Linked DNA regions of Homo sapiens. The protein of the gene in region 2 purifies or fractionates together with the protein of the main gene of each other region. This does not show direct contact. Each region holds a gene or a part of one and is shown on either strand. Other genes may lie near its edges.

Evidence for each region. Proteins that work in one complex are often made in the same cells at the same time.
Region 1: the proteins of COL23A1 (region 2) and COLGALT1 purify together in Homo sapiens (affinity purification with mass spectrometry; one large-scale study listed by BioGRID and IntAct). This does not show direct contact.

Annotation. Positions count from the first base shown.
Region 1 is NC_000019.10:17,558,649-17,562,148, reverse strand, and holds part of COLGALT1 (procollagen galactosyltransferase 1 precursor), read right to left. Parts: intron 2,839-3,500; coding exon 2,728-2,838; intron 1,802-2,727; coding exon 1,684-1,801; intron 1-1,683. UniProt on the Homo sapiens protein: Beta-galactosyltransferase that transfers beta-galactose to hydroxylysine residues of type I collagen. By acting on collagen glycosylation, facilitates the formation of collagen triple helix. Also involved in the biosynthesis of collagen type IV.
Region 2 is NC_000005.10:178,240,894-178,244,393, forward strand, and holds part of COL23A1 (collagen alpha-1(XXIII) chain), read right to left. Parts: intron 1,502-3,500; coding exon 1,448-1,501; intron 1,236-1,447; coding exon 1,149-1,235; intron 1-1,148.

The DNA of each region.
Region 1 (3,500 bases), on a different chromosome or scaffold from region 2:
TATAATCCCAGCACTTTGGGAGGCCGAGGCAGCTGGATCACCTGAGGTCAGGACTTTAGAGACCAGCCTGGCCAACATGGCGAAACCCCGTCTCTACTAAAATTACAAAAATTAGCCAGGCATGATGGCGGGGGCCTGTAATCCCAGCTACCCAGGAGGCTGAGGCAGAAGAATTGCTTGAACCCAGGAGGAGGAGGCTGCAGTGAGCCGAGATTGTGCCACTGCACTCCAACCTGGGCAACAGAGACTCTGTCTCAAAAAACAAGAAAAAAGAAAATCAGGAGAATATAGAAAAGTATGAAGGCTGAAATAACATTTGGGGTTGATCATAGAAAACTGTGTAATGGGTTCAATGTATATTATTTAGGGGATGGACGCCCCAAAATCTCTGACTTCACCACTTCACAATCTATGCATGTAACAGAATTACACTTGTGCTCCATAAGTTTATACAAATTAAAAAATAATAGTAATATTCAACCTATAAGTCTGTTTTTTTTTTTTTTTTTTTTTTTTTGAGACAGAGTCTCATACTGTGGCCCAGGTTGGAGTGCAGTGGCGTGATCTTGGCTCGAGAAAAAAATAAAAAGACTCAACTGTTCCCTTCCCCATGAGACAATGTCCCCACAGGAGGAGGAAGTGCAAGTCAGGCCTCAGCAATTCAATGTGGCCACCACCCCCCAGCCCCTGACCCCTTCCTCCTGCTTCTTGGAAGTGACCCAAAGGTTTGGCCATTACATATGATGGTGATAAAAACAGACGTGACACGGCCAGGCACGGTGGCCCATGCCTGTAATCCCAGCACTTTGGGAGGCCGAGGCAGGAAGATCACTTGAGCCCAGGGGTTGGAGACCAGCCTGGGCAACATAGCAAGACCCCGTCTCTACAAAAATATTTTTTATTTGTTATTTTTTAAAAATATTTATTTATGTATTTATTTATGAGATGGAGTCTCACTGTGTCGCCCAGTGACTGGAGTGCAGTGGCACGATCTCGGCTCACTGCAACCTCTGCCTCCTAGGTTCAAGAAATCCTCCTGCCTCAGCCTCCCAGGTAGCCGGGATTACAGGCACCTGCCACCACGCCCGGCTAATTTTTGTATTTTTAGTAGAGATGGAGTCTCACCATATTGACCAGGCTGGTCTCGACCTCCTGACCTCAAGTGATCCACCCGCCTTGGCCTCCTAAAGTGCTGGGATTATAGGCATGAGCCACCATGCCTGGCTTCCACAAAAATAAAAATAAAAAATTAGCCGGGCGTGGTGGTGGGTGCCTGTGGTCCCAGCTACTCAGGAGGCTGTGGCACGGGAATCGCTTGAACCCAGGAGGCAGAGGTTGCAGTGAGCCGATATTGCGGCACTTCACTCCAGCCTGGGCACCAGAGTGAGTCTCTGTCTCAAAAAAATAAAAAAATAAAAATGGACTTGACCCAAGTGTCCAAACACAGGGGACAACTGGGGACAGAAAAGCCCATTCATTCCTAGTGCTGAGGATCAAATGAATCCCAGCTCCTCCTCCACTGACCAACCATATCACCTCAAGCAACTCATCTCCCCTCTCTAAGCCTCAGTTTACCCTTCTGCAAAACAACATTAAGGATGGTCCTGGCATCCTGCTGCTCCGCCTTCCCTGGGGATACCCAGACCTGCCTGTGATCCATATCCGGCCGGCTGAGAAACTTACCAGGATGTAATCAGCCCACATGTCTCGAGCTGATTTCAGGGCTGCCTGGCGCAACTTCATGACATGCTCGTAGCGTGAGTCAGACCAGTGTTTCGGGCCTTCCTCGTCCGGGTAGGACCTATGGGGAGGCAGCTGTGATGTGGACATCACAAGGCACTATCAAAGCCCAGCGAGGGCCTGAGCTGCCTTCGGGGTACTCAGAGAGAGCTTCCTGGAGGAGGGGACGTGTAAGCTGATCTGAGGGATGGGAAAAAGTAAACGACGAGGAAAGAGAAGTGGGGAGAATGTTCCTGGCCGGAGGTACAGCCTGTGCAAAGGCCTGGAGGGAAGAAAGCCCGAGGCACACTGGAGGGAAGGAAGGAAGGAAGCTCAGTGGGGTCCAGTGCAGTGGCCCACGCCTGCGATCCCAGCACTTTGGGAGGCAGAGGTGGGAGGATCGCTTGAGGCCAGCACTTTGAGACCAGCCTGGGCAACACAGTGAGACCCTATCTCTACAAAAAATACAAAAACATTAGCTAGGCATGGTTACATGTGCCTGTAGTCCCAGCTACTCAGGAGGCTGAGGCGGGAGGATGGCTTGAGCCCAGGAGTTAAAGGCTGCAGTAAGCTGTGTTCACTCCACTGCACTCCAGCCTGGGTGAGGGAGTGAGACCCTGTCTCAAAAAAAAAACAAAAACCCAGAAAGGAACTGGGTGGGGGCAGGGAGTCCATGCTGCCCAGGGCTTTAGGGAGTAGATAAACAGCAAAGCCAGTGCTGGGACCAAGACTGAGTCAGTGAGCCAGGGAACAAAGCAGTGGGCGTCCCCAGAAGAAAAAGGGAGTGAAAGAATTCTAGGTACAGGGAACGGCTTGGGCAAAGGTCTGAGAAGAGGATTATGGCCTATTTGTAAAGCTGAGGGAGGCTCAGAGTAGCTTAATGCTGCCTGGCTGGGCTGGAGGCAGGGACTGAGGGCCTGTAATTGTTCTGGGGCAATGGGGAGCCATAGAGGGTGTGTGAGCAGAGGCAAAGCCCAATCAGACTAGGAGCAGGGGAAAGATGCTCACCTGGGCTCCTCTGCTGGCCGCCACTCCACGGAATGGTACAAACTCTTCACGGCCACCAGCCACTCCCGCAGCACAGTTGACGTGTTATCCATGTTGTGGTCCGTAGCCACCCTGCAGGGAGAGGGGACAGGCAGCGTACTTGGGGAGACTGAGGCAGGACCAGGCAGCAGTGAGGCAAGTCAAGGACCACCATCCCCAACTGGCCTCCCACCAGCTATGTATCCCTGGACAGGACACTTCTCCCTTTCCTTTGTTTTTTTTTGAGACAGAGTCTCGCTCTGTTGCCCAGGCTGGAGTGCAGTGGCGCGATCTCGGCTCACTGCAAGCTCCGCCTCCCGGGTTCACGCCTTCTCCTGTCTCAGCCTCCCAAGTAGCTGGGACTACAGGCGCCCGCCACCACACCCGGCTAATTTTTTTGTATTTTTAGTAGAGACGGGGTTTCACCATGTTGGCCAGGCTGGTCTCGATCTCCTGACCTCGTGATCCGCCCACCTTGGCCTCCCAAAGTGCTGGACTTAACAAGCGTGAGCCACCGCGCCCGGCCCATTTCTCCCTTTCCATGTCAGTTTCCTCATCTGTAACATGGGGGTGGGAACAGGACCCAGTTTACTGGGAAGTGGAAGGATTAAACAAGCTGATTTTGGAAAGACCCATTAGTGATTGGCTGTTTTATTACTGAGCATCTAAGATCTTGCAAACCACATTCACTAACAAATATGTGTCACTTAATTTTTTTTTTCTTTTGAGACAGAGTCTTGCTCTGTCACCCAGGC
Region 2 (3,500 bases):
TTTTCTGAGCTCCACCGGAAGAGTGTGACATGTAAACCCTCCCTACTTTCTAGAAAAAGGAACTAGGCAGGGCACAGTGGCTCACACCTGTCGTCCCAGCACTCTGGGAGGCTAAGGTGGGACAATCGCTTGAGCCCAGACCAGCCTGGACGACATTGCAAGACCCCAGCTCTACAAAAATTAAAAATTAGCTGGGCATGGTGGTGCATGCCTGTAGTTCTTGGCTACTTGGGAAGCTGAGGCAGGAGGATCACTTGAGCCTGGGAGATGGAGGCTGCAGTGAACCATGATCGCTCCAGCCTGGGCGACAGAGTGAGACTCTGTCTCCGAAAAGAAATAAATGGAGCTGACTTTTGAACTGTGGTTGTTTCAGGCACCAGTGCCTGAAACCACTGGGGCTGGTGGGCTGCCAAAGGCCACTGAGAGAGCACAGAAAGAGGTACAGGAAGGGTGTGGGGGTAGGCAGAGGGGATGTGGGGAAGAGGGAGGTGCTGCCCCAGCCCAGAGAGACTCTTCTGGGAAGGAGGAAGGAAGGGGAGGCACAGCCAGCCAGAGAGGTCAGGGTGGTCCCACCGTCTGTGCTTGGGGAAGCTGAGTTTCAGCTCAGCTTGGCCTCAGGCCCAGTGGGAGTCAGACCCCGACTTCCACCCCAGGCAGCCAGACCACAGCGATGGGGCTGGGCACTCACTGCCTCCGCCCCCAGCGGCAGCGTGTCTGTGCTAACTTTGGTTCCCTCCGCAGGGCCCAGCCCCCTCCCAGGGCACCGCTGATGGTGCTGATGACTCCAGGTAAAGCCCCTCCACTCCTGGTCTAGGCCCTGTCCACTTCCAGCCCAAGATGGCCCACAGTGGGTTCCTACTCAAGCCAGGCCTGTCCTGGGGGTGAAGAATGAGGGGCTGGGCCTCCAGCTCTACAGAGGGGCTGGGTTCCCTGAGTCATGCCCATGGTTGGGGGTGGTTAGGACCAGAGCAAGGGGAACCGCGATGATGGCAGTAGCAGCAGCAGTGGCCCTGACAGTGAGGAAGGCCAGTGCGTGACCAGTGGGGCCTCTGGGACTTGCAGCTGAGTTCCGAGGACAGGGAAGATGTTGGGCTGACCCTGGCTGGAGGCCAAAAAGACCTGGGGCAGGGCCCTCCTCCGACACCTACCACGGGACACGGCTGGTCCAGGCCTGGTGGTCCCGGCTCGCCCTTCTGGCCCTTCACTCCTTTCCGGCCGGGGACCCCTCGTTCTCCCTGTGCAGGAGGGGAGATGGTGGTATTGGTCATGGCTGCCAGGCTTAGGAACCTCCAACATCTCTCCGAGAGAAGCGCGTGGGGCCAGCCTCCCCCTGCCTCCGCCCACCTGCCCGGCCTGGGTTCTCTCTACCTGCTTCACCTGAGCCTCCACTCCCACCTGCCTCCTTCCCCCTCTCCTCCTGCCCCAGCTCCCGTCCAGCTGCCCTCACCTTCTCTCCACGCTCGCTCCGATCACCTTTCTCTCCTCGGGGTCCAGGGAAACCCTGACAAAAGGATTAGATGCTAAACCCGAAAATGAGGCTGGAGGTTTGCCCCTCTGTTACCGGCTCATCTCTGTTCCTCTCCCATCCACACGCCCACTTTCCCCCCTGCATATTCGTGGCACACGCTGGCCTAGCCCTAGCTGTAGGTGATACACTGCTGGGTACAAGGCTGATGTAGGAAGAGCATGCATTTACGATGCCAGCTGGGCTTGCTCCAAAGTAGTCGCTGGACACCAACACTCAGGCAGAGCTGCTGGCAAGGGGCTGTCTCTCACATCACAGACGCGGCTGGCACTGGTCTAGGCTTGGCTGGGGACAGAGACCCCGGAAACCATGGAAGTTATGTCACTGTCTGATGGGATGAGAAATGGTGATCTCTGTTCTGTGCCCTTGGCTCAACTTCCTGCACACCCATCTGTCCATTCATCTATCTGTCCGTCCACCCAACCAAGGTGGCTTAACATCCACTAGGAACCGGGCTGTTGGCTGGACACTGGGGACACAGAATTGGATTCATTGTGGCCGGGCATGGTGGCTCATGCCTGTAATCCCAGCACTTTGGGAGGTCGAGGTGGGCAGATCACCTGAGGTCAGGAGTTTGAGACCCACCCTGGCCAACATGGCGAAACCCTAAAAAACACAAAAATTAGCCGAGTATGGTGATGCGCGCCTGTAATCCCAGCTACTTGGGAGACTGAGGCAGGAGAATTGCCTGAACCTGAGAGGTGGAGGTTGCAGTGAGCCGAGATCGCACCACTGCACTCTGGCCTGGGCGACAGAGCGGGACTCTGTCTCAAAAAACAAACAAAGAGGCCAGGCATGGTGGCTCCCGCCTGTAATCCTAGCACTTTGGGAAGCCAAGGCAGGCAGATTGCTTGAGCTCAGGAGTTCAAGACCAGCCTGGGCAACACAGTGAAACCCCATCTCTCCTAAAATACAAAAAATTAGCCGTCCTAGCAGCGTGCACCTGTAGTCCCAGCTACTTGGGAGGTTGAGGCAGGAGAATCGCTTGAACCCGGGAGACAGAAGTTGCAGTGAGCCGAGATCATGCCACTGCACTCCAGCCTGGGTGGACAGAGTGAGACTCCATCTCCAAAAAAAAAAAAAAAAAGAAACAATTTTAAAAAGAGAATTGGATTCGACATGGTCCCTTGTTCACGTGTAACGGGGCAGGCAAGAGAGTGCTGATGACAGTCAATGCTCAGTGACAGAGGTGTGAAATAGGGGTGGTGGGATTCTGGAGGGAAGGGCTGTTCTATCACAGGTGGGGGTCAAGGGGAGTTTCTCAGCACGGTCCTCATTATAGTTGGGCCTTCTGGGGTTGAGGAGGAGCCTGGCATTTGCCAGGTAGAGCAGGTGGGCATGGCTTTGAGATGCCACCCTGAGAACCAGGCCTCCTGGAAGGCAGCTGTGGCCACATTCATGGTGGCATGGAGTCTCCTTAGCTCCACCCTCAACTGGGCCCAGAGCCTGCAGCTGGTTCAGCATTGTCCTCTCCCATCCCTTCCCATTGATGGAACCCAGCACCCCCGTCAGAAACCCAAGCTACAGCTCTTCCTTTCCCTCGTCCACAGTTGCTCTCCCAGGTAATGTTCTTTTTTTTGAGACGGAGTCTCACTCTGTTGCCCAGGCTGGAGCACAGTGGCACGATCTCAGCTCATTGCAAGCTCCGCCTCCTGGGCTCATGCCATCCTCCCGCCTCAGTCTCCTGAGTAGCTGGGACTACAGGCACCCGCCACCATGCCTGGCTAATTTTTTTTTTTTTTTTGTATATTTAGTAGAGACAGGGTTTCACCGTGTTAGCCAGGATGGTCTCTATCTCTTGACCTCGTGATCCACCCGCCTCGGCTTCCCAAAGTGCTGGGATTACAGGTGTGAGCCACCGTGCCTGGCCGGTAATGTTCTCTTTTTAAAGTCTAGGGTGGGCACCAGAGTCCTTGCAGCCCTGCATCTGGGCCTATGTCCCTCAAAATAGCTACCTGATTTTCCTGAGAACAAC